Linked DNA regions of Homo sapiens. The protein of the gene in region 3 interacts with the protein of the main gene of each other region in a pairwise test. Each region holds a gene or a part of one and is shown on either strand. Other genes may lie near its edges. The genes, in order: ZC3HC1, ZNF133, PDPK1, KATNBL1 and XPO7.

Region 1 (6,362 bases), on a different chromosome or scaffold from region 3:
CCCAAAGTGCTGGGATTACAGGCGTGAGCCACCACACCAGGCTGAATTTGTGTTCTATAAACAGTGAACCTCCTTTCTAAAAATGGAAAGAAAATAAGCTCTTTTCTATTTTTAAGAAGGAAAAATAGAAAGGAAGTTCTTTTCTATTTTTAGAAAGGAAGAAAAATCCGCTTAATTGATAAAAACTACCATAGGAAACACCAGCTGGAGTCTTCTAGGCCCCCATGTTGCTATTTCCATTCCAGCTGCTCAATTTGGCATAGACTCCCACTATCCTTAATCTACCAAAGAGAGCATATTTAAAATACATCAAGATTGGTTCTGACAGTAAATAAATCTTGATGTATTTTAAATATGCTCTCTTTGGTAGATTAAGGAATGTTTTTTGTTTAAAGGGAAAAGACTTTAAGAGGGACAAGAGAGGGTGGGTACGGTGGCTCACACTTATTTAATCCCAGCACTTTGGGAGGCCAAGGCGGGTGGATCACCTGAGGTCAGGAATTCGAGACCAGCCTGGCCAACATGGTGAAACCCCATCTCTACCAAAAGTACAAAAATTAGCCGGGCATGGTGGCGGGTGCCTGTAATCCCAGCTACTCAGGAGGCTGAGGCAGGGGAATCACTTGAACCTGGGAGGCGGAGGTTGCAGTGAGCTGAGATCGCACCATTGCACTCCAGCCCGGGCAACAAGAGCAAAACTCTGACTCAAAAAAAAAAAAAAAAAAAAAAAAAAAAGAGGGACAGGAGAAACTTTTTGTGTTGTTGTTGTTGTTGGTCAGGCTGGTCTCGAACTCCTGACCTCAGGTGATCCACCCACCTTGGCCTCCCAAAGTGCTGGGATTACAGGCATGAGCCACTGCACCCGGCCGAGAAACTTTTAAAACATGCCTGCAAAACAGTCTTACCATAGAGAGCACACTAAGAACCCGAGGTCTTTCTATGGGAAATATGTGAGAGATGATGAAGTATGAAGCTGGGTCCTGAGACTGGAGCACAGAGGCTCTGATAGGACATGGTGACTGTTCCAGAAATTGGATGAGATAAGGCATACTCACAAGACATTGCACTTAGTCATTTGGAAATGTTACACTTTGAGAAAACTCTCTTTTTCATTCCTATCTAGTTCCTCTTTGGAATCCATGCAGCTCTCCCTGATAACATGTTCGCAATGTATGAGGAAGGTGGGGCTCTGGGGCTTCCAGCAGATTGAATCGTCCATGACTGACCTGGATGCATCCTTTGGCCTGACCAGCTCCCCAATCCCAGGCCTTGAGGGGCGACCAGAGCGCTTACCTCTGGTGCCTGAATCTCCTCGGAGGATGATGACCCGGAGCCAGGATGCCACTTTCTCCCCAGGCTCAGAGCAGGTATTCACTTAGCTTATTTGGGGTGGAATTTTAAACAACATTCTTGGCAAAAGTGTTGTTGGTAGAAAGTTGGAAATTAATTTAGGTGGATAGGCTTCTCTTCCCACTACATTGGTTACGATACCACATAGTGTTTCTGTTCACTAATGGGGAAGCTAAATTCAGCCAGACCCGGTGGCTCACGCCTATGATCCCAGCACTTTGGGAGACTGAGGCAGGCAGATCACTTGAGGTTAGGAGTTTGAGACCAGCCTGGCCAACATGGTGAAACCCCGTCTCTACCAAAAATGCAAAAATTAGCCAGGTGTGGTGGCAGGCACCTGTAATCCCAGCTACTTGGGAGGCTGAAGCAGGAGAATCACTTGAACTCGGGAGGCAGAGGTTGCCATGAGCCAAGATCGCCTCACTGCTCTCCAGCCTTGGCAACAAAGCGAGACTCTGTCTCAAAAAAAAAAAGAAAAAAGATTAAAGAAAGAAGTATTTCTGACCATAATCATTAATATCATTCGTGTACTTCCATTATCTCCCCTTTCCTTCAGGCTGAAAAGAGCCCTGGTCCCATTGTCTCTCGAACTCGGAGCTGGGACTCTTCCAGTCCTGTTGACCGTCCTGAGCCAGAGGCTGCTAGCCCCACCACCAGAACTCGCCCAGTGACCCGAAGCATGGGAACAGGAGACACCCCTGGCCTGGAGGTACCATCTAGCCCTCTGCGGAAAGCCAAGCGAGCTCGCCTCTGCTCCTCCAGCAGTTCGGTGAGTCCACCTCGCATGTAGCAGTGGCTGAGCATAAACAGCATATTGGGCCCTCCCTAGGCAGCATGGAGAAGCAGGCAGGAGCCCTTCCGTGGTCCAATGCAAAAAGTAGACCATGTGAATAAATTTAAAGTTGGATGACCAAAGGGAAAAAATGTCAGTCATGTTTTTTGCTCCTTTTTGTTCCTTTGGAGTGGATTCTGGAGAAATAATAGATATTTCAGGCAAATGGAACAACGGTGTGATACAGGGACAAACCTGATCTGGCAGCGGTCCCCAACCTTTTTGGCACCAGGGACCGTTTTCATGGAAGACCATTTTTCCACGGACCACGGTTGGGAGGATGGTTTCGGGATGATACGAGCACATTACATGTATTGTGTACTTTATTTCTATTATTATTATATTGTAATATATAATGAAATAATTGTACAACTCACCATAATATAGAGTCAGTGGGAACCTGCAGCTTGTTTTCCTGCAACTAGATGATCTCATCTGGGGGTGACGGGAAACAGTGACAGATCATGAGGTGTCAGACTCTCATAAGGAGCCCGAAGTCTAGATCCCTCTCATGTGCAGTTCACAGTAGGGTTCCTGCTCCTATAAGAATCTAATGCCACTGCTGATCTGACAGGAGGCAGAGCTCAGGTGGTAATGCAAACAATGGGGAGCAGCTGTAAATTCAGATGAAGCTTTGCTTGCCCGCCTGCTGTTCACCTCCTACTGTGCGACCTGGTACCCATCCATGGCCTGGGGGTTGGGTATCCCTTATCCCTTGTGATAAGGTATAGTTTGTTTAACACAAAAGGAGTGAAAAAATAAAGAAAATGAGAGGAAAATGTGTAGGCAAAGTTTGAAGGAGAGCATAAACACTCGAAGTATGGGTAGTTGTGAGATTCTGGACTTGATAACTAACAGCAGTGCCTCCCTGAACTTACATAGCATCTACCTATGAATGCTATTTCTTTTTCTCCTTCCTCAGGACACATCTTCCCGAAGCTTCTTTGATCCCACCTCTCAGCATAGAGACTGGTGCCCTTGGGTGAATATCACACTTGGCAAAGAAAGCAGGGAGAATGGTGGAACTGAACCAGATGCCAGCGCCCCAGCAGAGCCAGGCTGGAAAGCAGTGCTGACCATCCTCTTGGCGCACAAACAGTCTAGCCAGCCAGCTGAAACGGACTCCATGGTGAGATACGCCACTGCCTTGTGTGTGGGCAGCACTTGCTGTTTATGGGAGGTGGAGCAGAGGCTGGGCCTATAATTAGCACCCCGCCTGCCTTCAGCTTTCATACGTCAAGTTATTTGGGTTTTTTTGTTTGTTTGTTTGTTTTTTGAGATGGAGTCTCGTTCTTGTTGCCTAGGCTGGAGTCCAATGGCACGATCTCAGCTCACTGCAACCTCCGCCTCCTGGGTCAAGCGATTCTCCTGCCTTAGCTTCCCAAGTAGCTAGGATTACAGGCGCCCACCACCACACCCGGCTAATTTTGTATTTTTAATAGACAGGGTTTCACCATGTTGGCCAGGCTGGTCTCGAACTCCTGACCTCAGGTGATCCCCCCGCCTCGGCCTCCCAAAGTGCTGGGATTACAGGCGTGAGCCACCGTGCCCGGCTTATACGTCAAGTTAGACTCATTCTGCTTTCGTCCTAGGGATTAGGCATAGAACCGGTTCGTCTTTCTGTAGTTTAGCATATGGCATTCCGTCAAGTTCTGATAAATTCTTTTGTTCTCCTAAATAAAGTGACTCCAAGTAGAAAAGGAGTACGGAAACAGAAATAGATGAACAGGCAGCTGCTCCGGCCTCATGTTGCAGACAGCTGCTTTTTCTTTCATTTGCTGTCACTTGCACTTGGAGCCTGGCCAGTTAACTTAGCTGTTTGGAGCACTGGGCTCTGACACCAAGATGATGGCCTCATTCCGCACGCTGGGCACATTACTTTACTCTGTTCCACAGCCCAGACTGTGACTCTGCTAGCCATTGCAGCCATAACTGCTGTGGGTTACAAATGTGGGTGACAACTGAGAAGAAAAGTCAAGTGTTTGCTCTGTGTAAAGATTGGAAGTGATAGGCTGGGTAATATGGAACCATGAAAACTGGGTTCTCTCCTTCGCTGGCTCACTCCCAAATTTTCCTTGTAGCTGGTAACAATTTCTGATCGTAGTCTATAACTTTCAAGGACAAAGTAAAATAATACTTGTCAGCAGATATTTATGAGCAGCACTCCTAGATTCATGGTTTTCTAGGGTTACAGGATTCCACTGGAGGGAACTATAGTAATGCTAAAAGTCCAAAATTGCATGGCTGGGTGTGGTGGCTCACGCCTGTAATCCTAGCACTTTGGGAGGCCAAGGCGAATGGATCACCTGAGGTCAAGAGTTTGAGACAACCTAGCCAACATGGTGAAACCTCGTCTCTACTCAAAATACAAAAAAAAAAAAAATTTGCCATGTGTGGTGGCAGGCGCCTGTAATCCCAGCTATTGGGGAGGCTGAGGCTGGAGAATCACTTGAACCCAGGAGGCGGAGGTTGCAGTGAGCCGAGGTTGCGCTCCAGCCTGGGCTTCAGAGAGAGACGCTGTCTCAAAAAAAAATAAAATAAAAATAAATGTATATTAGTACCCTTAGTAAATATGCAGGTGAAGGTTTTCCAAGTTTTCACAGAAAAAAAAATCCGCATTTCTCTGCCTAGATCTTCAGGAACTAGTACATTGGCAGTTTTCAGTAAGACTCCTCTCTGTCACTGCCATACGAAAAAGAAAGCCTATGGGTTTTGTTTTTGTTTTGTAGTGGGAAAAGTTGGCCTCATAATTGGCCCTGGATTCCAGGACTTTTTTTTTCGGTAGTGTGTCTTAACCTTCTGACAGCTGCTGTGACGAAGCTAGAAAGCTTAATGAGACTGTGTGGTAAAGGATCCTGATGTTCGAAAAAAAAAAGTATATACCGAGGCCAGGCACAGTGGCTCATGCCTGTGATCCCAGCACTTTGGGACGCTGACGCAGGGGAATCACCTGAGGTCAGGAGTTCGAGACCAGCGTGGCCAACATGGCAAAACCCCATCTCTACTGAAAATACAAAAATTAGCCAGGACTGTTGGTGTGCACCTGTAATCCCAGTACTCCAGAGGCTGAGGCAGGAGAATTGGGAGGTGGAGGTTGCAGTGAGCCGAGATCGCACTACTACACTCCAGCGTGGGCAACAGAGTGAGACTCCCTTTCAAAAAAAAAAAAAAAAGAAAAAAGTGTATACTATTTTTTCAACTCAGGTTTCTTTCAACTTTGTCACTCTATTAACTAAATTTCCCTCAGTCATTAGTAAGAGTTCAAACTTTTTCCTCCTGGAACTTATTGAAACATCCTCAAAGAGGATAGATTTTTAAAAAACTGTGAAAGTGGGCCGGGCGCAGTGGCTCACGCCTGTAATCCCAGCACTTTGGGAGGCCGAGGCAGGCAGATCATGAGGTCAGGAGATCAAGACCATCCTGGCCAACATGGTGAAACTCCATCTCTACTAAAAATACAAAAATTAGCTGGGCGTGGTGGCATATGCCTGTAATCCCAGCTACTCAGGAGGCTGAGGCAGGAGAATCGCTTGAACCAGGGAGTCAAGAGGTTGCAGTGAGCTGAAATGGCACCACAGCACTCCAGCCTGGCGACAGAGCGAGACCTGTCTCAAAAAAAAAAAAAAAAAAAAAAAAAACCTGTGAAAGCGTCATATGAGAAACTGGAGGTAACTGTGGATCATCTTGCTAGACATTCTTTGTACTCTCACTGAGACCCTTTCTGCGTGGAATACTTGCTCTTCATTGTGACTCTCAAAGGCAGACAGAACCAAGTGTTCTGATTCACCAAGAGCTTTTGTCTCCTAATGAATTACTTTGTCTCCCTTTACCACCATTTCTCAGAATCTCAGAGTACTTCATTGGCATGATCAGATGGCACTGCGATTCTTCCTATTATTAGCACTGCTGGCTAAAACATAAAAGCGGTGAAGACCAAGGCCAGAGCTTAAACTCATAGGGGTCATTCAACTCTGTTTTTATTAGTTGTCCTTGGTTTATACTGTTAACCTCAGCTAGGCATCACATTAAGTATAAGTACTTATTCACAATAAATAATGAACTAGGGCCAATTCAGCATCATGAATGAAAAACCAGTGCAGGCCGGGCGTGGTGGCTCACGCCTGTAATCCCAGCACTTTGGGAGGCCGAGGCAGGCGGATCACGAGGTCAGGAGATCAAG
Region 2 (6,362 bases), on a different chromosome or scaffold from region 3:
CTCATATCTCCTTGGCTTACCTTCATACATATTAGGGCATAGTCATGGGTAAGTAGGTCTTTCAGCAGTAAAAGGAACTCCTGTGTCTGTCCTGAGTTAAGCACAGTGACTATAATTTTGACACAGGTAATACCTCCCACCCACCCTTATAAGAACCAAGGCTTCTGATATGTAGGCTTATTACAGCCCTAGCTGCTGTGCCTATGTGTAAAGTGGCAGGCTTTTATTTACACTAAATGTATTTCAGAATTATAGAAGCGCCTTCAGAGAAATCTTAATTCAACATGGTTTTAACATTTGTATGGAGTGACAGAAGAAAAACAAAACTTTAATTCTCCATTAGTCAGTTTTTTCAGTTGGTCACCAAATTTGGCATTCTGTGTATACACTAGGAATATTTAGTCTTAGAAGAAATTTTAACACAAAATATTACCAGGTTAATGAATTTATTTATAAAATATTTTAAATCTAAGGTGCTCCTGCACTGATAGGTTTATAGAGACTAATGGGCACTGACACAAATTTAAAATTTAAAAACTCGAGAATAACTAAATTAAAAAAAAAAAATCAGGCCAGGTGTAGCGGCTCACGCCTGTACCAGCACTTTGGGAGGCTGAGTCGAGTGGATCACTTGAGGTCAGGAATTTGAGACCAGCCTGGCCAACATGGTGAAACCCTGTCTCTTCTAAAAATATAAAAATTAGCTGGTTGTGGTGGTGTGCACCTATAATTTCAGCTACCCAGGACGCTGAGGCAGGTGCTTGAACCTGCGTGGCGGAGGTTGCAGTGAGCCGAGATTGCGCCACTGCATTCCTGCCTGGGCAACAGAGCAAGATTCTGTCTCAAAAAAATAAAAAATAAATAAAATTGAAAATTGAACTCCTAATGATTCAAATATGCCAGTTTCTGAAGGAAATCTTTCTTGCTGCAGCTGAAGCTCTGGCTCTGAAGAAAAAAGTTTAGCTGTGAATTAAGCCAGGCACCTTGCTTATTAGGTTGCACGATAAGAAAGAAATGTGAGGCACTCAGAGCTTATTTACTACAATATGTAAACAACCTTACTAGCTGGTATGTAACTAAAGGGTGGAATCAATATTTCAAAGTAAGATAAAGCCTGCAAATAAGACAAATGCAATGTCTTTTCCCTTATTTTATCAGTGTAAACATAACATTAGCATAATATTCTAGTGATATAAAACTTGGTTCTGATATGTAGGCTTTCTCAAAGAAAGTTTAACTAATCTAAACTTCCAAGACTAATATATAGGTTCAGCATCCCTAATCTGCAAAGTTCCAAAATCTGAAAATCTTTAAGCACCAACATGCAGCCACAAGTAGAAAATTCCACAGCTGATCTCATGTGACAGGTCATAGTCAAAACACAGGCACATAAAATTCAGTTTATTCAGCATCCTCAAAGGAAAAATATAATTACCTTCAGGCCAAGTGTACAAGGTGTACACAAAACATAAATGAAATTCCTGTTTAGACTAGGGTCCTATACCCAAGATATCTCATTATGTTTATGGTAATATTCCAAAATGCAAACCAACCAACCAACCAACCAAACAAACCCAAAATCTGAAACACTTATGGTCCTAAGCATTTTGGATAAGGGAGAGTCAACCTATACTGATTTTAAAAATCAGATAGGCTAATATTGCCTTCATAAATATGTAAGATTAGGCACATGTAGATATATGTGTCCAACTAGTATCTTATAATTTACAGACAGTGCCAGAAATTACGTGAATCTACAATTACTTTACTCAAAGTAAATACCAGAAATGGCATATTTTTCAGGCAGTTTTTAACTTAAGACTGATTAAGTTGTTTTTCAATTTCTAAGATCTCTGTTAGGAAATCATTATAAGAATAAATATTTTTGTTAAAAAATTCAAAAACAAAACTATACAAAGTGTTCTCATGCAATAATTTTACTTGTATTTTTGCCTAAACTAATGAGATCAGCCTTATGTTAATTATTTGAGACTGAAACTTAAAACTTTAAATACCGTCCATCAACACTATATATGCTTAAAAACATGTACAATTATTTAGCTTGCCAATAAACAGAAAAAAGCTTAAACTTGACAATAATACTGGTAACTAAAAAAGAATTATAACTTGGTGTATTTCTGTCCTCCATATGAAAAATAACTAATTTTTGTCTTTTGTATACTCAACTTAGAAATAAAAGCTCTATTTTTACCTCACCAGATATCCAATTTCTCATTCTTTATTTTTTAAATTTCTTACAGATAGGATCTCACTCTGTGGCCCAGGCTGAAGTGCAGTGGTACAATCATAGATCACGTAGCCCAAATTCCTGGGCTCGAGCAATCCTCCCTCCTCAGCTTCCTAAGTAGCTGGGACTACAGGCACACAACACCTCACCCTGGCTAATTATAAAAATTTTTTTAGAGACAGAGTCTCGCTATGTTGCCCAGGCTGGTCTTGAACTCCTGGCCTCAAGTGATCCTCCTGCCTTGGTCTCAGCCTCCTGAGTAGCTAGGAATACAGGTGCAAGCCACAGCACCTGGCTTTAGTTCTCATTCTTAGGCTTCTGTGTTACCTCTTACCAGGCTTCTTAGTCAATATAAATAACAAGGATTAGTCACTTCAGGAGGGCATATAATTCTTCATAATTATGGTAACTCCTGTTACTTTTAAAAAACTAATTAATTTTTAAATTGACAAAAAATGTATATATTCATTGTGTACATTTTGAAATATATATACATTGTGACATGGCTAAATTGAGCTAATTAACATATTGCATCACCTCACATACCTATCATTTTTTGTGATGAGAACACCCAAAATCTACTCTTAGTGATTTTCAAGAATACAATATATTGTTATTAACTGTAGTCATCATGTTATACAATAGATCTCTTGAACTTATTCTTTCTATGTGAAAATCCTTTGACCAACATCTTCCCCAACCACCCCCATCCCCTAGTAACCACCATTGTATTCTCTTTCTCTATGAGTCCAACCTTTTTAGACTGCACATATAAGTAAGATTGTGTGGTATTTGTCTTTCTGTGACTGGCTCATTTCACTTAACATAACATCCTCCAGGTTCATCCATGTTGTTGCAAATGATTCCGTTACATTTATTGAATTAGCATTCTGATTAATGAAACAGCCGAGAAAATTAAATACTTTTCTTGTAACTAGCCTATTTTGAGGATTCTGATATTGCCTGTCTTAAATCCAAGTCCCAAATATAGAATAATGAAACCGTTAAGATGTATTTTATACCTAGAACAGTCTTCCTCCCGTTACACATATATTTTGGGTTTCCAAGACAGCTTCCTGGGCAACCACAATGACTTGCTCCTTGGATTGTACAGCATTCTTTTTAATGTGCTCAACATCATTGTAAGAGCTGCTGTTTTTCTTTAAATTAAAACAAGGATTAAAAACGAGACAAAAAAGATAGGTTTCGCTTTAAGACAATGATAGGTAAGCTGCTTGTTATTAATATAAATGTTTTGATAATTCTATACTTTTCAGGTTGAGAAAACACATATTTGTGTAAATGTACAAAGGTCAGGGTGTATAGCATTTTCCCAGCCTCCACCTGCCAATTCTAGAATGAACACACAGGTCAGATAATGCCCCTACATCCTCTCCTTCTCTGTCCAACATTCCTTCCATGTCCTTGGCTAGACACCTCTCTTGTTCCTTGAGAGGAAGATTTTTGTAAGATTCCCTCAAGTAGATAGACAGCTTCTTCCTTTCATATCTCAAGCATTACACAGTGGGATGAATGTCCTTGTTTTGTAATGTGGCTTCCACACCATTACCTACCATACTTTTTTTAGGACCATCCACAGGTCTCCTGGTTTCACACACTGCCCTGAATATTTGATCACCTACCAGCCTCACATCCTCTCCACACCAATACCTGTCAGCACTCTCAGGGTGCTCCACAGGGCTGAGCCTCTGGCTAAGACTCCAACTTCTCAGCAACACTGACCTCACCTGCACTGTGAATGCTGTTCACAGACACTGCACAATCTTCACATTCTCTCCTGTGCACATTCCCTTCTCTGACACAGCCTTTTCTTCTACCTTCTGACTCACTTTGCTCAAGCACCATGGGCACATTGGTTCCTGACCTTATTTGGGGCTCCAATCCATGACCTTTCAGCTTATACACCAGTCCCTCATCTTTACTCCTTCATACAACTGAGATCCAATGGACTTACATATCCAACTGACCTTTTATGGAACTATATATTCGGCGGAGAGTCTATGAAATCACTATGGTGCTCTCACAAGGATGCTGTTATGGACTGAGTTGTGTTTCCCCCAAATTCTTATGTTGAAGCTGTAATCCCTAATGTGACTGTATTTGGAGACAGGGCCTTTAAAGAGGTAATTAAGGTTAAATAAGGTCGTAAGGGTGGGCCCTAATCCAATGGGGCTGGTGTCCTTTTAAGAAGAGGAAGAGACGACAAAGATGTGTGAGCATTGAGAAAGGGCCATGTGAAGACACAGGGGGAAGGTGGCCATCTGTAAGTTCAGGAGTGAGGACTCAGAGCAACCAAACCTGCTGACAACTTGATCTTGAACTTCTGGCTTCCAGAACTATAACTAAATGAATTTCTGTTGTTTAAGCCAGCTAGTCCACAGTATTTTGTCATGGCGGCCCAAGGTGACTAATACAGATGCTTTACTTCCTTTGCCCTGACCTTCCTTCTTTCCTATTGCTGTAGTAAAACACCTACTCATCTGCCTCAGTCAACCCCTGAGCAAGTCTCATGAAATTTATCTGTTATTAAGTAAAGTCACTATTAAAAGTTAACACCACTTGGTTTGACAGCAAATGCAACACCAGCTACATGCTGCTGCTTAAAAGCAAAACACCCAAATGACAATGTTTTTATTTTAAAATAAAAGGATGAACAATAAAATACCAAAAAGATGCACCAGAAAGTACAGTGCTAAGACTAAAAAGAAATAAAGAGGAAGTTAAAGGAAACAATAGCTCATGGAACTAAGAGAATTTCAGCATTAAAAACTTCATTAATGAGTAAGATAAAAATATCCTGAACCTTTCTATACCTAATAGAACAATAAAGTGAAATATAACACAAAAACTTAGAAATAAATGGAGAAGTTGATATAAATTACGACTGTGGAGAGCTTTAGGATTCCTTCTAACAGATGAACAGTAAGGATACAAGCAAGTTGAAAAACAGCGACAATTTATATTATGTATGCTATGGTCCCTCAATTTGAAGACAGAATTAATCAATTTAATAAAAACAAGAGGAGAAAATTTCTTACCCAGAAAAAGAAAATATATACTTCTGTGCAAACATTTATAAAACTGTCAAAAGAATTTTAAAAATTAAAGCACATATATAATTTCTTAAAGTTATCTATGTGTCTGTCATTTAAAAATAATGCAAAGTAGGATGAAAAATTCTCAGCAGCCCCTTGTCCAACCCTCCCCAATTCTATCCCCACAGAGGTAACCACTAGTAATGGTAAATAACAACAGACTTCTATGTTCACATAAACATATGGATATATACTCTTTCATACACTTCTCTTTGTTTAACAACAAACTCAACTGCATAGTATACAAAATCCTATAACTTTTTCACTTAATAAGTTATCCACTTAGTGTCTGATTTAAAGAAGATAAAGTAAAATTTAATTATAATTAGTGAACAGATAGGAAATCTCACCACAAAGAAAAGTGTAGTAAAAGTGAATGGAAATTGCAGAACTGAAAAATAAGTGAAATGAAGGATTCACTGGCCAGAGCTTAGCACATTGGAAATGACAAATGAGACAGTAAACTTGAAGACAGACCAACAGAAATCATCCAGTCTAAAGAACAGAGAGAAAAAAAAGATTTAAAAATATGGAAAGGATCTATAACCTGTGGGATTATATAAAAAGGACTAATATACATGTGCCTATAGTCCCAAAAGGGGACAGAGAGATTCAGGCAGATAAAAACATGTAAAGGAAGAATGTACTTAAGGCAGTCACATCACAGTGAAACTGCTGAATACCAAAAGTATGGAGAAAAGTAGCCAAAGGAAATAAAGCTAAATTATGTTCATGGTGACTTCTCCATCAGAAACAATGGCAGGCAGAACAATGGAATGCTATCTTTAACGTGCTGAAAAAATAACCAATGTAGAATTCTACATCGAGCGAAGATACACTTCAAGAATGAAGGTAAAATAAAGACACTTTCAGAAGCAATAGAGAATACACTGCCACCTGTACCATAAGAAATGCCAAATGAAGTCCTTAAGGTTCAAGAAAAATAATACCAAAGGTAAACTCGGATTTTCAAACAAACAAAAAGAACAGAAAATGAT
Region 3 (6,362 bases):
GCTCAGCAGCAGACACCGCTGTGCACTAGGCTTGAGGGCCACCTCCCAGGAGCCGCCCCTGACTCCATTCTCTTGACCGGTCTGTTCATCAGACCTCGACCACGGCCCCTGCCCCTGCTCTCCTGCCCGTTCTCCCGCCTGGCCTAGGAGAAGCCACAGCAAACCCCACGTTCCCCGCCACAAAGAGAAGGAAGTCCAGAGTCAGTGCCAGGCTGCCACGGCTCAGGGGCCCAGCCCACCACAGCCTTTCATGCCCCCCCACACACTCCTGCCCAGGAGCTGAAAGAGCCCCACACTGCCGCCAGCCCCTACCCAGCCCTAAGACTCTTGGCAGCGCATCTTGCTGCCGGGAAGCCTCTGACACGGATCGTCAGTGCACGTCCAGCTCCTCCACCAAAATCGAAGCTTCTCGTGGGCAGAGACGCCACCCGGCATAGCAGCGCATCCCCATCACCCATCAACCTGCACTTGGCAAGCACCTCCAAACAGAGAGAGCACACACACTCCGCCGGCAGCCGAAGGAGCTGCAGGATGGTGCTGAGAGTGGGAGCAGGCCAGAACGAAGCTCTAACACAGAAGAGCCGGGTGCTGGGGAGAGACGGGGAGGACAGGTGGGAGGACTCAGGCCCCTCCCCAGGCAGGATGGGGAGGCCACGACACTTGGGCCAGCTTGGAGGGTGGCGGGGGAGGAGAAGAGCAGATGCAGACTGCACCTGCTGGGGGTGACGACGGTGTGGCGTGGCCAGCCCAGCCACTGGCAGGCCCACAGGTCAGCTGGATGGGGCAGAGGTGGGGCCCACCCCAACTTCCACCGGGCCTTGCCTCCCAGATTCCTGAGCCAAGGTTTAATAACAGAAAAGATGGCGCTCTAGGGGAGCAAGGGACGCCGACCAAGCAAGCCGCAGCAGAGAGGACTGTGCTGGAGCCACATCGGTGGCTTCTCCGGGAGGTAACGTCCTGTGCAGACTCCCAGCCACACCCTGGCGCTGCCTCGGCTGCCTCCCTGAATGTCAGCGGCCTGAGGGACCCCACTCGGCAGGGAGCGGGGGCTGCTTGTGGGAACACACAGGGTCTGATTCCAAGTGAGAGGGGTGACTGGTGTGGCTTCAGACGGCACCAACCACGCAAAGGATACACAGCTTCTCGTCGTCCTGAAATGTGAAGTAAAGCTTAACAAAGAAGGGGTGATCCAGGCGCGACATGACATCCCGCTCTCTGGTTACATAGGGGACCTTGTTCTCTTTTATGATATGTCGCTTCTCCAGAATTTTAACTTCAGGTGAGAGAGAAGTGAGTTACTATCAGAAACAACAAAAAACACTAAAGACATGACTCACAAAGGTAACTGGTACAAATTAAAGTCTTTCAAACATTGTACACAACAGCCTGGTGGTCTCTAAAGCCAACAGTGTCCTGTACCCTGAAATCAGCACAGAAACACCGGCCCTGCCACCCCAGCCGCCCTGCACGGAGCCGCTTGCCCTGCTCCCGGACGCACAGCTCCCTGCAGCCCATACTCACTCGCATATTCTCTGGAGGTTGCCAGTTCTCGAGCCAGGACAACCTGGTTGGGAAAGAAAAGGAGAAAAAGAAACACACAATGTAATAACCAGGACACTGGGCCTGACGAGTCCCTCTGCCCCACACGCACGCTTCCTGTCCCCACTGAAGGCTTGAGTCTACAGTGAAATATTTTGGGTCTTGTACTGACAAGTAGAGCTAAAAGCCAATGCTCGTGTTGATGTGTTCTAACAGCTAAGAGAAAACATATCCATCTCTCTGTTGTTTCCAGAAGCTTCTGGATCAGCTGCTAACAGCCCTAACGGTGCAACACAAGTACAAACTCAGGAACCTCTTCGACTGCCACGCCCTTCACCAACAGAAGGAAGACAGTGGCGCCACCACAAGTGGCAGGGCACAGGGGCTTCTGTGACAACAATATGTCCTTCTAGTATACATTCATTGCAAAGGCTGCCCTGAAGTTTCGTTTTTGGAAATAACTGTTATCATACATTTTGTATGATGTTGCTTGTGGGCACCATGAAGAGAGCCTGGCTGTAAAGGACAGAGGGAGCTAAACCAGCAATGCATGGCCCTGCGTGCCCACAAGAGGGAGCCACCTGCCCGGGATGCAGCAGGCCTCCTGCCCTGTCCTCTCAGCACCCCTGAGCCCTGCACTCAAACCCCACCTCCGAGACAGAGCACTCCAGCAGGGCAGGCATCCCAAACAGGGGAGAGACCCTCCACTCGGACTAGCCTGGGGCACACCCTGAGGCACCAGACTGGAGATTCCTGGTGGGCCCACGGTTTAGCCAGAGAGCATGAGGCAGCTGTGCCAGGGAGGCCCCACCACCACCAAGTGGGACACAAGTGTCTCCTAAGACACCCACAGGGGGACGGCCTGAGGAGCAGGGAGCAGAGGAAACCTGTCCCGTGACATTCCTGGGGGCTGGCAGGAAGACCTTCAGGAGGCCACAGGGCCAGGTCCACCTGGCCCCGGGCTGTGAGCCGCAATCGGGGCAGGACTCCTGATGGGACACGTCAGAAGAGATCCTGGAAAGCACCATGTGAGACGCCTTGTGGCACTCAAGAAGAATGAAGTTGGATTCTGGGGACTCTACATACTCAAGGTCTTCCCAGAGGAATACGCCACGCATGGATGGCTCTCAGCTGCCAGGGAGAAAGGGGAAGTGGGCCGGGCAGGGCTCCCCTCTCTAGCTCATGTGTTTCTGTGAGGTCACGTTTCTCCACAAGAGCACGTGCTAGCTTCATAAGTAGAAAAGAGGAAGAAAGAATTGTGAACGAGCACCGATATTTAGTGGAACCCTTTCTAAGGGGATACTGATGTGATCTTTCCGTTGTCTAAACTCAACACTTCACAAGCAGGTTTCCTACAAGAAGGAAGGATCCTCTTCCAGAGAATGGCGCGTGACGTGTCCCTCCCTGGAGGTTGTGACCGTCCTCAGGGGGCCTCCCGGCTCTCCGGTGCTGCAGCTGGCTCTTGCCCAGCCTCCTATCACTGTCCTTTCCCCCTCCCCTGGAAATCAACTTTTATGTGATCTCCATTTCAGGAAAGCTGAGAAAGAACTGAGGGTAACACATGTAATCTGAGACCCAGTACTGTGGATTCCAAACAGCCCCATGGAGGAGCCTCCGGCTCACCGTGCTCTCCCGGGCACCTCCCTGGTGCAGGTTCAGAAAGACACGGACCACAGCCCCTGGAGGGACAGTGCCTGCTCTCCACCCATCTCCAGAACCCAGGGAAACAGGCAATTTCACAGATGAGTCTTCCTTTTTCAGTCAAGATAAATGTTAAGGGCCATGTATGGTGGCACATGCCTGTGGTCCCAGCTACTCAGGAGGCTAAGGCAGGAGGATCGCTTAAGCCCAGGTGGTGAAGGCTGCAGTGAGCTATGATCACACCGCTGCACTCCAGCCTAGGTGACAGAGCAAGACTCTGTTTCTAAAAGGATAAATACATACATAATAAAATAAAGTTAAATTAAAAAGAGACATACAAGGAAGTAAAACTGAGGCCAAGCACAGTGGCTCACGCCTGTAATCCCAACACTTTGCAAGGCTGAGGAGAGAATCACTCGAGCCTAGGAGTTCAAGACCAGTCTGGGCAACAAAGTGAGACCCTGTCTCTACAAAAAATTTTACAATTAGCTGGGCACGGTGGTGCATTCCTGTAACTGCAGCTACTTGGGAGGCTGAGGTAAGAGGATCACTTGAGCCCAGGAAGTCGAGGCTGCAGTGAGCTATGATCATGCCACTGCACTCAAGCCTGGGTGACAGAGCAAGACTCTGTCTCAAAAAACAGGTAAAGCTGAGAAAAGAGGAGGCCTGTTCTTTCACTGGGTGGTTGTAAGCAGCCATGCAGAATGCCCAAGGTTTTCCAAAGAGTTTCTTCTTTCTGAAAGGATCTGAGTCCCCAAAACTTTGGGGACTAGTCTCATGGTTGAAGGCATTTTTCATGAGGGCATAATCCTTTTATAAAAAAATTATTTCATAAAACCTGCAATTTAAAAAATCTAAAGTGTAAGGGCAGCAAAAGTTAACATTAATTAAAACAATATGTTGGGAATATGGGTAAGCTATATTTCATGTTTTTCTTTGCATTGTGAAATATTTCCTATGTGTAAAAAAGAGAAAAAAGGAAAATAAACCTCACCTACGGTTTCTTCACAAAGGTCAGGCAAGAAAGAATTATTCAGGAACTCACCCAGGCCCTCCAGAGTGAGGTGCCCCCAGGGCTCCCTGGAATGGCCCTAGCACGCACACGGCGGCCACCTTGGCGACCACAGTGGCGGCACGGGACTCTGTCTCTTTAGAGGCCCAGATGGAGACAGTACACCCCGAGTTGCTCAGGCCTCCCCTGAACCTGTTACAACCTTCACTAAATCCACAACCACACACGGCTTCATGGGTCCCACGTCAGCAAAACGTCCCATGTCAGCTGCTTTCGACCTTCATTTCTTTGCTTTCAGAGGAAAAAACACCCCGAAGACAGGTAACAAGTGTGACTTGACAGTACTGCGACAATACTCCTGTTTGTGAAACTCGGAACACAAGACTCTGGAGGCTGTGTCTCCAGCAAATGTCCAGAGCGTACTGTTTTATGTATTCAAAAAAACAAAACAGAGAAATAAGAAGAGGTCAATAAATGTCCCCAAAAACCCTGGAGAGATACTAACTTTCAATCTAAGAAAAAGAACAGCTTCCCAGGGCCCTGCCAGTGAGACACAAGGACACAGAATGTAACTTGCTGATGCCAGGTTAAAATGAAATTAACTACATCAGAAAAAACCTCCGCAGACCATCAAGAGATGTGTCTAACGTTCTCATCTACAAAACCAGGTTAAATATTTAGCCACACTCATCACGTCATCTGCTTGGGGGGTACCCAGCCCCCAAAGACTCAAGTGGCCTTCACAACAGGTGACACCCCTCAAGGGGCCTGAGACCTCCTGCCTGGAAGGACACCAGCCTTGCTTGGAGTCTCCGGCAAGCCCCGAGGAAGGTGAGCCTCCCCAAGGAAATCACGTACGTTTGACACACAGCAGCAGCAAATACTCACCGTGGAAAAAGAGCCTTCCCCAAGGATTTTCCCAAACTTGAAGTCCTCAGGCCGCTTCTTCCGAGGCTGCGGCGGAGGCTGGGCATGCTGCAGGGAGCCGGCGCCGGGCCGAGGCTCGGCTGCAGTGCCGTCCATGGCGGGGCCCTGCCTGCTGCCACCAGGAATGCCAGGGGGCGTGCTGGACTCAGTCTGGGTCCTCACCATTGATGGGGATGGGCAGGAACATAACACCACGCTGGACTGGATGGGCACGGCGTCATACTAGGCGACAAAGAGGAAAAGGAAGTAAGGCTCAAGGCAGCTGCCTTGCTCTCAATGCACGGACTAAGGTTTAAGGACCTCATTTCAACGCTCAAAAACAAACCCCAAGCACAGGGCAGGCCAGCTGAGCCCCGCGGTCTGCTGTGAGCTGCCGGCCTCCTCTCCTGAGTCCTGCCCGTGCCATGGCTCCCCGCTAATCCACCAGGCAGCGCCTCGCCCTCCTCCTGTCCCTCGCGCTGCCTGAGCCTCCAGCCAACTCATCCCAAGGCCAAGGTAACCTGAGCAGAGATAGCACGGCACATCTTTAATTGTGGGGGGGATGGAGAGATAAGAGTGATGATCGCATGTGTTTACAATACACAGAGACGCCCAGTGCTGGCAAGACTATAATAAAGCGAGCGCACTCACACCACTGCGGCTGGCACCAAAAACCGGGATTGCAGTGGAAATGTTTTTGGAAAGCAGTTTGGCAACTGTCAACAAAGCGACTACAGAACAGTTGTCAATGAGACACAGAAATACGAAGGAGAGGAGGGAGGGCAGAAACCCAGTTAACAATGTAAGCGGGCACGGAGGGAAGATCAGCGTGCAAAGCTAGGTCGGCAAGACGTGCAAGGTGCACCCACAGCCATAACAATCCCTCCCCAGACCCCAACGTGTCCTCACGGTGGTGGCAGTGGCCCCCCGCACTACAGAAGAACAATGCGAGGCGAGCTCAGGCGCGCTGATGGTGGTTTCCGATACAACTCCCCACTCAAAGAACCCCGGAGAGCTCTTGATTCCATCTCTCAGTAGGGTCCTGAAGTCCATGCTGTCTGAAGACACAGGGTCTCCCCCTGCGTCTGTGCCAGGACAGAGGGACTGCCACCAGCCAAGCTGCAATCCTTTTAAACGCTAAAAACGGCCGGGCTTGGTGGCTCATGCCTGTAGTCCCAGCAGTTTGGGTGGATGAGGCGGGTGGATCCCCTGCGGTCGGGAGTTCAAGATCAGCCTGACCAACACGAATAAACCCCTTCTCTAC
Region 4 (6,362 bases), on a different chromosome or scaffold from region 3:
TTACCTATCAAAACTGATGAGTGGACATCCTGATATATGTAAATATGTGCACTTGTACAGACACTTTTGTTAAAATTAATTTTACAATTGGAACAGCTAGGTCAATGGTTATATGTATTTTAACTTGGCTAAGATGTTATGGTATCACTTTCAGATTTAGGTTTTTAGAGCAGGTACTGGTCAATCAAGAAAACAGGTATGAAACAAGAATAATCATTAAACCTATTAGTTAAATGTAAGGTTTAGTGAAAAGTAGTGAAAATGAGAATGTAAAGTAAAAAGAGGTTCTTGAGAAAGATGTCTCACTGGGGTAGTTTTTAAAATGCACAACTGAAACTTTTTAAAAAGAACTTTTATTCTGGCCAGGCACAGTGGCTCACACCTGTAATCCCAGCACTTTGGGCTGGGGCTGAGGCAGGTTGATCGCTTCAGCTCAGTAGTTCGAGACCAACCTGGGGAGCATGGCAAAACCCTGTCGCTATAGGAAATACAAAAATCAGCTGGGTGTGGTGGCACATGCCTGTAGTCCCAGTTACTCTGGAGACTGAGGTGGGAGGATTGCTTGAACCTGGGAGGTGAAGGTTGCAGTGAGCCAAGATTGCACCACTGCACCCCAGCCTGGGTGATAGAGCGAGAGACCCTGTTTCAAAACACAAAACAAAACAAACTTATTTTATGTTCAGGGGCACATGTGCAGGTTTGTTATATAGGTAGTTTGCATGTTGTGGGGGTTTGGTGTACAGATTATTTCATCACACAGGTAATAAGCATAGTAACTGATAAGTAGTTTTTTGATCCTAACTCTCTTCTCACCCTCTACCCTAAGGTAGGCCTCATGTCTGTTGTTCCCATCTTTGTGTCCATATGCACTAGCACAGTGTTTAGCTCCCACTCCAACTGAGAACATGAAGCATTTGGTTTTCTGTTCCTGTATTAGTTCGCTTAGGATAATGGCCTCCAGGTTCACTCGTGATTGCAAATGACATGATCTTGTTCTTTTTATGGCTGCATATAGTATTCCATGGTGTATATGCACCATATTTTCTTTATCCAGTTTACCATTGATGGGCATTTCGATTGATTCCTTGTCTTTGCTATTGTGAACAGTGCTGTGATGAACATACGCATACATGTGTCTTTATGGTAGCATGTTTTATATTCCTTTGGGTATATATCCAATAATAAGATTGTTTTAAGTTCTTTGAAAAATTGTCGCACTGCTTTCACAATGGCTGAAACTAAATTACATTGTCACCAGCATTGTATAAGTGTTCTTTTTCCACAACCTTGCCAGAATCTATTATTTTTTGACTTTTTAATAATAGCCATTCTAACTGGTATGAGATGATATCCTGTTGTGGTTTTGATTTGCATTTCTCTAATGATGAGTGATTTTAGGTTTAGCATTTAGGCTGAGCATTTTTTCATATGCTTGTCACCTACATGTATGTCTTCTTTTGAAAAGTGTCTATTGTGTCCTTTGCCTACTTTTTTTTTTTTTTTTTTTTTTTTTTTTTTTTTGAGACAGAATCTCACTCTGTAACCCAGGCTGGAGTGCAGTGACAAGATCTTGGCTCACTGCAACCTTTGCCTCCCGGGTTCAAGCAATTCTTGAGCGTCAGCCTCCCAAGTAGCTGGCATTACAGGCGTGCACCACCACGCCTGGGTAATTTTTGTATTTTTGGTAAAGATGGGGTTTTGCCATGTTGGCCAGGCGAGTCTTGAACTCCTGACCACCTGCCTTGGCCTCCCAAAGTGTGCCACCATGCCTAGCTAATTTTTGTATTTCTAGTAGAGATGAGGTTTCGCCATGTTGGCCAGGCCCAGTTTTAGAATATTTCTATCACTCTCAAAAACGCTTTTGAGTCTGTTAACCAGTTTTGCTTGAGCCAGAAGAGCAGCAAACCACAGCAGGTTTGCCTGAACTATGCTTTAACCAGGCAATATTGAGAGCCCGGCAAAATGTGTCTGGATAACTGGCTTCGGTGGTCCACTTTTTTTTTTTTTTTTGAGATGGAGTCTTGCTCTCTTGCCCAGGCTGGAGTGCAATGGAATGATCGCGGCTCACTGCAACCTCTGCCTCCCAGGTTCAAGTGATTCTTCTGCCTCAGCCTCCCAAGCAGCTGGGATTACAGGCACCCACCATCATGCCCGGCTCATTTTTGTACTTTTGTAGAGACAGGGTGTTTCACCATGTTGCCCAGGCTGGCCTCGAACTCCCGACCTCAGGTGATCTGCCTGCAGATGTTGTCCTTTTTATTTTTATTTTTTTGAGACGGAGTCGCTCTGTTGCCCAGGCTGGAGTGCAATGGTGTGATCTCAACTCACTGCAACTTCTGCCTCCCGGGTTCAAGCGATTCTCCTGTCTCAGCCTCCTTCTGAGTAGCTGGGATTACAGGCGCCCCCCACCATGCCCGGCTAATTTTTGTATTTTTAGTAGAGGCAGGGTTTCACCATGTTGGCCAGGCTGGTCTCAAACGCCTAACCTCGTGATCCACCCACCTCGGGCTCCAGGCGTGAGCCACTGTGTCCGGCCTAGTGCTCCACTTTTTTAGGCAAGATTTCTCCTTTTCCCTTCCTTTAAATCTCTACTGGCTAACTTGTCATTCTGGATAGTTTTAGCAGCCTGCTAAGCATTTCATCCCATCTTAGAGAAATGGAATAAATTATTAATTCAAATTTGGTTAATCTAGAAAATTGTCTCAGGGAGTTACTATGACTCAAATAAGTCTACATTCAATAGGTGACAAATTATTCTGCTAGTGGAATATGGCAAAGAAAAAAATCAAGATTATAACAGGAACAAAGTTAAACTAGATATGAGTTAGAGAAAAGACTTACCTCAGAAAAAAACCCACTATATTTTGATGATGGGCTTTCTGTCTGTGAAGAACCAGAATCACTGGAGTTAACCAAATATGTTCGACTATCATGGTGTAATTTTTCAGGCAGGTGGCCTGCACAAGCCAGTTCATTTTCTTTATTTGCCATGTCACAGCCCCCACTTCCAGGGGACTGTTTTTTTCTGTAACAAGGATTTGGAAAGGGATGATGAACTTTCTTTCTGCGATAGATCACTTTACGAAGTTTATCTGGGCTTTTCACAGTTTGTCCAACTGTTCTGTAAAAAGAATTTATTTTCTTAAATGAAAAAGAACCATATGAAATCCTTTAAAAGTTTTTAAACAGAGAATTAATAGGCTATATTTGGTGATTGTAATCCACTAAAATTAGAAATAAATAGAATTTTAAAAATCTTAATTCTGAGTTGAAGAGAAAAGTAAAAGGGAAATTACAAATTATCTGGAAGACAATGTAAAGGATGACATTTTATGCCAAATAAAAATGAAGACAGACATAATAACCAGAATGCTTTTAAAAATGAAATATTAAAGGCCATTCTGGGAGTAAGAAGACCACAACATTTTCTAGAAACCTGATCTTTTTCTAACAAAGTGGCAAATAAGACTGCAAGTGTGAATATTTTAAAATTTAATTAAGCTGAAGTATATTGATTTATTTGAGTAAGAACACGATAGAGCAAGCCTCATCGTTTAATACAGTGGTTCTCAAACGTTTTAGTGTCACGATGCTTTGCTCTCTTAAAAATAATTAATGACTCAAAAATTTTTTTTTTTTTTGAGATGCAGTCTCTCTCTGTTGCCAGGCTAGTGTGCAGTGGCACAATCTCAGCTCACTGCAACCTCCACCTCCCAGGTTCAAGTGATTCTCTTGCCTCAGCCTCCTGAGTAGCTGGGACTACAGTCGCGCGCCACCATGCTGAACTAACTTTTGTATTTTTAGTAGAGACAGGGTTTCACCCTGTTGGCAAGGATGATCTTGATCTCTTGACCTCATGATCCACCCACCTTGGCCTCCTAAAGTGCTGGGAATACAGGTGTGAGCCATGGCCAAAATAATTTTTATGTGAATAGTATCTATTGATATTTACTGTGTAAAAACTAAAACAAAATTTAAATCATTTGTTAATTCATTCAAAAAAAGACTAATTACATATTAACATGGAATATCTTACCCAAAACCCATATTTTCTAAAATAATTTTTTAAAAAGTGAGAAGAATGGTACTGTTTTACATTTTTATATATCTCTAATATCTGGTTTAACAAAAGACAGCTGGGTTCTCATTTCTGCTTCTCCATTCAATCTACTGTGATATCAAATGGCATATAGCTTCTTGAAAAATTATATTGTACCCTCAAACAAGAGAATGAAAATGAAGACAGTCAATGTCTTAGTATTGCTATGGAAGTAATTCTGACTTCACAAATTCCATGAATGGTCTTTAGGGACCCGCAGGTCCTCAAATCACACTTTGAAAACCAGTCGTTTTGTAGAAAGTGCCTTTAGAAGTTAGGCAGATCTGAGAATGAATGTCATTCTTACCACTTTTCTAGCTATATGATTCTGAACAAATCATTTAACTTATCTGATCTTAAGTTTTCTCATCAACTGTTAGGGTTAATGTTATCTATAGAGTAGGCTATAGAGTAGGACTGTTGTAAGGAGCAGAGACAATATTGATGTGTTTATTAGTGCAGATACTGGCATAAAGAAGCTGTTTGACAATAAGTTAATTATTATTATGATAAAAGAATGCTTATTTTTCCCTTATTGTCATCCTTACCCAGCTTTCATATTTGTTGTTCCCCACAAACTTTAAAGAAACTCTTACCTATTTATGTAAGCAGCCAACTGTTTTGGAGATTTCTTAACCTGAAAAATGAAAGTAGATAGTTGATGTTAGAAACAAATGCTTGGTGCCGCAAAGAAGAATCAGCACTCCGGCAAAAAGCTTTCTCAGCAAGGCAATTTACTTCTGCAGAAGGGTGCCAATCGTGCCTGGAGTGGTCGCAAGAGCATACCGGGCATGGGAGGAGAAGGGGTTCTTATCCCTAATGCAGCTAGTCCCTACTACTGTGTCATTCCCCTATTGGCTAGGGTTGGACCGCACAGTCTAAACTAATTCTGATAGGCTATCTGGGTATGAGGCAGAGTGGCGGGGTGAGCAGTTTAGGCAGGAAGGATGGTTACAGTGCAGGTGACTAAGGATGACTAAGGACAGAGCAGGTGACTAAGGATGACTAAGGACTCTAAATATGTGAGTATAAAGGCTAGAAGGGGGTTGTTTACTGAAACTAGGGCAAGGAGGTGTAAAGAATGAGGAAGTTAAACTTTAAAATGGAGAACAAAGTATAAGAAAGCTGAACATACTGACATACTGGTTCCCAGAGGAACTCAGAACTCACTGTACTTAACAATATCCCCCTTTTGAATTTTACAGGTCTTCCTCTTCAAATTTCTTTAACATGTCTTGGCATAGCTGTTCTGCTTGGTTTTCTAAAAGAAAGAGCTTGTCAGAATATGGTGGAGGGGAACTGAGAGAAGTTTTAGTAAGGGCTGTTTCTGTATGTCTTTGGACTAGCCCACGGATGCGAGGTATGATGCAGCATCCAACAAGGATAAGCACTACTGCTACAATTGCAAGAGAAGTAAGGATGGTGGCTGTGATCCCTTTCCATTTACCAAACCATTTTTCTAGCCACCCTGTGAAGGGGTCATTTACTCCTGAGTTTTTTGCTAACTCATTGGACAGAGCAGTTAGACCTTGCAATGCCTTTGTTATACTTTCATCAGGGGCGGTATTGTTTGGGATGAAGGTACAACACTGAGTTTTAATCATGATGCAAACTTCCCCTTTTTCTGCTAAAATCATGTCTAAGGCCATTCTATTTTCCCAAGCCATCTGGCTAGTAAGCCCTAATTGCTCAGCTATTCCTTTAACAGCATCTCTAGTATAGTTAATAAACCGCTGTTGGTTGTAATAGGTGGAATTTATCTAATCTACGTTTTTATTAATTGTCACCCACCAAAATATTGACTCAAATCCAGCAGCTATTTGATCTCAGGTCTTAAATTTATTTGGTACTCCTCGTGGGACTCTAATTGCATCTAAATAAATGTGGGAGTCGAAAGACCCATAAGGGGCTTCCCTTGCTTTATGACATTGTGTTTTTTTCTTTCTCTGGTTGATGAAATGCCAGGGTGAAAGGGATAGCCAACTGCACTAGGGCGCAAGTGACACTCCAGTTACTAGGCAGAGTGTCCAGCAAAGGTCTACCACAATATCACCATACATCTGCTCGGGGGTGTATAAGGGCTGACTGGTTGGTGAGCTCTTGGAAAGTCTTAAGCTCACCGCATCCTTTTAGGTCTCTAAGGGATGCTAAGTTTCCTCTTTGTCGTGAGAGACACAAAATGAACTCAGTGTCGGGAGACAGAAGCTGGATGGCCCTCGGGGGCTAACCTGTGGGGTCTTGAACTTCGGGATATAGCAGAGAA
Region 5 (6,362 bases), on a different chromosome or scaffold from region 3:
ATGTAGATCTTACGAAACTGTTCAAAAAAGCTCAGCATGGCCAACTCTAGCTTCTCATTACCCGCCTGGGCCAAACGAGAATCTGTTAGGTTCATCAGCTGGAGCACCCTGGAGGAAGAGGAGCAATGATTCTCTCAACAGCAGGACATCCTGTTTACTCTAGACAACCCAAGCTATCTTGACATGGTCGTATATGCCTGTACTTGGGTACAGCAACCTCCTGCAACCAAATTCATCTACATAAATGAGGGAGGCAGGACTAGACCAGGAGTTTTCAATCTTTTTGGAGACACATGAAGGATGATGTTCACAGGTAGGTAACACTTCCAGGGATTACTAGCAGAAATATTACCTGTGACTTCATCTCTTTTCTCTGTACCTTCTCCCCAAAAGAAAGGATACTGGAATGCAAGTGAGTGAATGCGAATACAGATGTCATAATAAGTGAGTCATTTGATATTTGAGTGTGGGAATAGTTAACTATTTGTGACACATCATGAGTGAATGAGACTCCATCATTGTGTTGCTACACTCAAGCTCAGAACCAATCTGCAAGACATTGTTTGAACTAAATTTATATTATGACACACACAGTATTGAACTCGGCTGCAGAATCAGAAAGGCATTAGATTTCATTCTTATTAAAGCTCTGCTCAACTCTTCAAAAAATGCCAGTGGGAAAATGCTACGGAGACTTTTGTCAGGATTAAGGGACCTCTGGGCAAATGGGCATCTGATAAACAAAATGGGGGTGGAAAGAGACAAATGAGGATTTTCAGAAGATATATATATTGAAGGCGGGGCGCGGTGGCTCATGCCTGTAATCCCAGCACTTTGGGAGGCCAAGGCAGGTGGATCACCTGAGGTCAGGAGTTCGAGACCAGCCTGGCCAACATGGTGAAACCCCGTCTCACTAAAAATACAAAAATTAGCCAGATGTGGTGACGCATGCCTGTAATCATAGCTACTTGGGAGGCTGAGGCAGGAGAATCGCTTGAACCCGGGAGAACCTGGAACAGGGAGGCAGAGGTTGCAGTGAGCTAAGATAGCGCCACTGCACTCTGGCCTGGGTGACAGAGCGAGACTCCATCTCCAAAAAAAAAAAAAAAAAAAGTTTTGATAAAATGAGAATTGCACAGATGAAAAATAACTTGAAATGTATGGCCAAGAGATTTGAAAGGCTGTAGGAACTCTGTAATTCCATCTCTGGTGAACTTTAAAGAACTGCAGTTTCCTTTTAGACTTATTTTGGGATGGCAAAAGCAGTCCATATTTTACTAACTCTGAGATACTATTCGTAAAAAGACCTAACAGAGAATCTCTGCTTTAGTTTTCCTAATTCCGTATCCATTATTTCCTTTCTGAATTATTGCTGGTTTTTTATTTTAAAGTAAAGATCATAGGCAGAGTTATCATGGCACTTACAAAAGCCTTGAAAGCTGTGTCTCATGGGCAGTTAGCATGTTCAGATTACGTTCTGTAAGTGGAGAGGACCCTATCGGGGAGTGGAGAAGTGCCAGCAAGGCAGAGTGGAGAGCTTCTGTGGGGAGCACTTACCGACAGACAAGCTCACCATCCATGGCGTCTTGCTCATCAGTGCTGGCAAAAGAAACCCGGCCACCGATCACTGCTCCAATAATGTAAACCAGCCATGTCAGCCTTCCTGCAGCAGGAGACAGACCCAGTGTCACCTCCAGTGATAGTTTCTTGAAGACATTCCTCACTCTGAACTTCCTTAATCTTAAGAACACTGTGGTGAAACCATGAAGTCTTACTTTTCTTACAGAGAATGGCTACTTCTCTGCTTTGGTAAGGGCAATGCTAAGAGGGAAATTCGTTAGGTAACCAATGTTCCTGTATCAGACAAGGCCATTATTTTTAGTGTAGTATTTCCTTAGAGTTAAAAACACCCAAGCTGGGCACAGTGCCATGTTACAAACACCAGCCAGGCCCGGTAAAAAGAGGAAGCCCAGGTTACTATCTGTACTTATCTCCCTGTTTCCCCTGGCCCTTGATTTAGCAGTCATAAACCTCTTGGCCTGGTCCCAGCTGTGCTGTGGGGCATTAAAAAGCAGACAGGAGCCAGGTGTGGTGGCACATGCCTGTAGTCCCAGCTACTTCGGGAGGCTGAGGCAGGAGGATCACTTGAGCCAAGAAGTACAAGGCCCACGTGGCAACATAGCGAGACCTCATCTCTTAAAACAAAATCCCACTGCAGATGTGATTTCAGTTCTTCTTCCCTAGTCCCTTGAGGGATTTATTCATTCATAAAGATTCTTGTGCATATGGAGACAACAGATGATGAAAGAATCCTTTTGCAGGGAGGTAGGAAAGAGGTGGCAATGAGCGAAGGGGTACTAGACAACATCTCCTCACAGGTCTAGAGTTCCCAGCACGCTGCACACTCACCCTCCTGCACTGCAATGTCCATTGGGCTTGCGCTGGCGCTCTGTAGCAGCTCCTGGTACGACTGGGCCGACTGGTCAAACAACTGCACGAGGAGTGCACACGTCTTCTCATATTCACAACGCCCAATGGTGGACAGCTGGTCCAACTGCTGCTGGACCAGCCCCGTATCCTCCAGGGGATCTTCCAGGCCATCTCTATTCCCAAGGGAAGAAGGAAGGCAGCTCTCTTAAAATATGACTACTGATTTGCCCAATATAGCAGCTCTCTGACTTCTTCACTTAGCCACCATTTCTGACTGTAGAGGTCTACATCCCGACATTACTTTTAACCAAGGAAGAATGTTTAATGAGGCAGAAGGCCAATGTCTTCGCCCTAGCATCAGTCTCCCTTAGGTATATTCTGCTTGTTGGTGTCAAATCTTACAATCTGAATTCTCAACTCTTAATGTTTTTCTGCCTTAAACCTCAAAGTCCTGCCCTTCTCAACTGTCTGACCTCTTGACTCTTAGTCTTTCGCTTGTTCTTGACTATAGTAAACTGTAGGATAAGTACACAGTCCTGTGTGGGAGGCCATTGTGGCCAGGTGTGTCTTGGAATTCAGAACTGTTCAAATTGGAGGAAGGCAGTATGATGCTTCTACCATATCATATAAAACCCTTGATGGGCTTTGTGGCACATCAAACTCAACGTTCCTGTAGCAAAACTTATGAATATTATAAATGGTCATACTAAGTAGGATTTTAAAAAAACTACAAATGGTCTCATACCAACTCCCGTCCGGTTTTGTAACAAGTGAATTCTAATGCCAAACTGATGAGGAAATTTCTTTTGTCACATCTTTGACTTTGGAATTGCAGACAAGGCATTGTGGCCCTGTACTAGGTCTTGCCTTATCTGCCAGCTCCTAGATTTTAACATCTTGTCCAATGAGGAGCTCTTCTGTTGTTACACTGCAATATGATAATGGCAGCAGCAGCAGCAGCAGGAGCAGCAGCACTAAAACTAGCTGTGTGCTTACCATGTGCTACACACTGTGCCAGGTCATATTAATTTAATCCTTGTAAGAACCTTATGAGGCAGGCCTATTATTATTTGAATTTTACAAATACAGAAATGGAGCAACTTGCCCAAGAGTACAGAGCTACTAACTGGCTATCCGGCCCCAGAGCCTACAAACATGTAACCACTCCCCAACAATGCCTCACTGAAGCCAGCCGAATCCTCAGGAGTGGAAGCTATGGAGGTGACAGAAGAAGGCTTGCTGGTGAACTTCATGAATACTCAGATTTTGAACTGATTCAAGTCATCAACAGTTAAGACTATAACTCATGACTATTCAATGCACTTGGGGCTAAGCAAATTAAGAATCCAACTTAAAAAGGCCCCAGACCCTTAGACTCCAAGTAAATTCTCTTGACAAACAGCCAGTGAAAACAAGAAAGCTACCTAAACAGGGCTATAACTTCATTTAATATAGGTAATTTTTGAAAGGGCTTGACATTTCTTTAGCTACGGGATTTTGGTTCAGTTAAGTCAATGTAGACAGAAACCATGTATGAATGTAAAGCAATCAGTGATCAGTGGCTTAGAATTCTTATGTGTTCTAGCTCTGGAATTAGAATTGATAACTAGATTGTGTAATCTTTATCCACTTATTTCTTTAGGAGTTCACATTAAGCACCTATAAGTTACACATAATTCTTATCATCTATATCTTATAAATGTTTCTCACATTGAAAGAAAAACAGCGGCAAGGACAAACATTATATGGATATACTCTATTCAAAGATATTGCTATGGACAGTGAAAAGGGGGAATATGAATAGAATATAAATGTTCAAGAGACAAGACTATTCTATCAGGCTTTATGCTCTCATGCTACTCTGCTGACAAGGAAGAAGAACCATGAACAGTAGTGGCTCCAATGAGACACGCTTCGAGTACCTCTTTGCCAATGGGGTGTCTGATCTCTAGGAAGTGTGACAACAGGCCACTGGTGCGGGAATGAATGAGGCTAAGTTTCCTTACCTCAGTATGATGTGCACAGATTCCAACCGGGATGTGATGTAGGCTTTGGTGACCTCAGGAGTGTAAGTTTCCAGCATGTGGGGCTCTGTGGCTTTGACATACGGCACAGAGGCTGCCAGCCGCTGCCACAGGCTCAGAAGATAGTGCACACTATTTGGAGCAAATTCCCAGTGCTAAAGAAAAGTAGAAAAGCAGAAGGCATATTTTTCATTTCTGTACGTGTTAGTCCCATGCCACTGACACAGAAGATAAAGACTTTTTTCTTTTTTTTAAAAAAAGAGGATAGACTTTTGTGGGCTTTGTTCTGTGTATGGCATCTAGTTTAATGTGTTTATTAGTATTTTCAAGATTAAGCATCTAATGAGAAGGGCTACTCTATGCTGGCTGTGTAAGCCTTACCATAAGGAAAGCCATATGTAAGTGGGTCTCAACCATTAGTATGCATGACAATCACCTGAAGAACTTGTTAGAAACACCAAGGCTCTACCCTGGACCTACTGAACCAGAAATTATGGGGATAAGACTCAAGAATCTATATTTTTTCATCAGTCCCCTAGATGACTGTGATACAAGCCATAAAATTTGAGACCCATTGTTCTATATTACATGACTAAGAAAGAGAGGGCATCAACTCTCTTTTTACTCTTCTGTCTAGCTCCCTGTTCCGACCTTGGCTTTTTTGGGGTGACTATGAGCTAATTCTCTCTGGGATGAATCTAAATATTATCCTAGTAATTCCCACATGTTCCTCTCCCCACACTACTTGCACTTGTGTAAATGTAAATCACAGGCCACAATAGTAACTACTCTGTAGGGCTATACTGGACTTATGGTTACCTTTGCCAAGAAAAAAAAATATATTCTTACATGGTTAAAACCAACAAGCAAGAGATTCCAGTATTTAGGAAGGAAGACACAAGTAATCAAAGACAAACCTGTAGGCTGGTCACTGTGAAGTTGGCTATCAATCGGATGACCTCAGGGTAGTTTTCCACCTTTACCAATTCTCCCAGTTGATAGTTACTCTTCAATCGGGCCAGTAGTCTGCAAAACTCATGGTAATTGTTTGGGTCTGATAAACTCTGGCAGTAGCAGAGGAGAAAAATAAAATGTAAAATGTGCCTTAACATACTTCAAGAATGATGTATACTTGAGATGGCATGGGGGAAGGGGTAGAATCTACTTTTTAACTTCTGGGCTGCAGGTCATGATTCAGAATGATACGTCTGCATAATGTTCAGAAACAATTTTTTAAAGTCACTTTGAAAAGGGACAGTCACATTTATTATCTCATATGTTCACAATAATAATCACATGAGATGACATTATTAGCCTCAATGGACAGAGTTTGAAACAGAAGCCCAGGAGGATCACACTGAGGCTGTAAAGCTCATTATAGCAGAAGTGGGCACGACCTAAGACGTGACTGACTTGTTTTCTTATTGTTACCAATCAAAGGAAATCTAATGAAATTTTCATTTCCACGTCTGTCAAACTGATCATTCAGCACAACTAACCGATAGTTAGCAAAGTTATACAAATGTTTCATATATTTATATCACTTACTGTAATTTATTCATATAGTAGTATTTATATGATATAGCAAATATTACAGCTATTTTAAAATCTATTCTACCAGTATATTTAATTGTAAGTTTCCTGATATGTCTTCTTCTGTTAGCATATGTGGGCTAAGACTTTGTTTTGTTCACCCGTGTATCCCTGGCACAGAGTAGGTATTCAATGTAATTTGTTGAATGAATAAATGAATTTTAAAAAGAGGGACAAAACTGAGTATATTTTGAAATAAACTGCTTTTTAATTTTCTTCTAGTATAGAGAAGTGATACTTTCAAAAAAATACTGAATCACTGGGACTTCAAAAGACAAAAAGGGCAATCGAGTTATGAAATTAACGTTTGAAAGA

The links.
Region 1: the proteins of PDPK1 (region 3) and ZC3HC1 interact in a two-hybrid assay, tested with the Homo sapiens proteins (one large-scale study listed by BioGRID and IntAct).
Region 2: the proteins of PDPK1 (region 3) and ZNF133 interact in a two-hybrid assay, tested with the Homo sapiens proteins (one large-scale study listed by BioGRID and IntAct).
Region 4: the proteins of PDPK1 (region 3) and KATNBL1 interact in a two-hybrid assay, tested with the Homo sapiens proteins (one large-scale study listed by BioGRID and IntAct).
Region 5: the proteins of PDPK1 (region 3) and XPO7 interact in a two-hybrid assay, tested with the Homo sapiens proteins (one large-scale study listed by BioGRID and IntAct).

What each region holds. Positions count from the first base shown.
Region 1 is NC_000007.14:130,019,268-130,025,629, reverse strand, and holds part of ZC3HC1 (zinc finger C3HC-type protein 1), read left to right. Parts: intron 1-1,123; coding exon 1,124-1,367; intron 1,368-1,906; coding exon 1,907-2,119; intron 2,120-3,104; coding exon 3,105-3,311; intron 3,312-6,362. UniProt on the Homo sapiens protein: Required for proper positioning of a substantial amount of TPR at the nuclear basket (NB) through interaction with TPR.
Region 2 is NC_000020.11:18,307,215-18,313,576, reverse strand, and holds part of ZNF133 (zinc finger protein 133), read right to left. Parts: intron 3,409-6,362; exon of another isoform or gene 3,299-3,408; coding exon of another isoform or gene 3,271-3,298; intron 2,217-3,270; exon of another isoform or gene 1-2,216. UniProt on the Homo sapiens protein: May be involved in transcriptional regulation as a repressor.
Region 3 is NC_000016.10:2,556,682-2,563,043, reverse strand, and holds part of PDPK1 (3-phosphoinositide-dependent protein kinase 1), read right to left. Parts: intron 5,342-6,362; coding exon 5,081-5,341; intron 5,065-5,080; exon of another isoform or gene 1,565-5,064; coding exon 1,522-1,564; intron 1,299-1,521; exon of another isoform or gene 1,274-1,298; coding exon 1,136-1,273; intron 1-1,135. UniProt on the Homo sapiens protein: Serine/threonine kinase which acts as a master kinase, phosphorylating and activating a subgroup of the AGC family of protein kinases.
Region 4 is NC_000015.10:34,149,949-34,156,310, forward strand, and holds part of KATNBL1 (KATNB1-like protein 1), read right to left. Parts: intron 4,737-6,362; coding exon 4,696-4,736; intron 3,122-4,695; coding exon 2,842-3,121; intron 1-2,841.
Region 5 is NC_000008.11:21,980,887-21,987,248, reverse strand, and holds part of XPO7 (exportin-7), read right to left. Parts: intron 5,519-6,362; coding exon 5,372-5,518; intron 4,610-5,371; coding exon 4,437-4,609; intron 2,604-4,436; coding exon 2,410-2,603; intron 1,664-2,409; coding exon 1,558-1,663; intron 109-1,557; coding exon 1-108.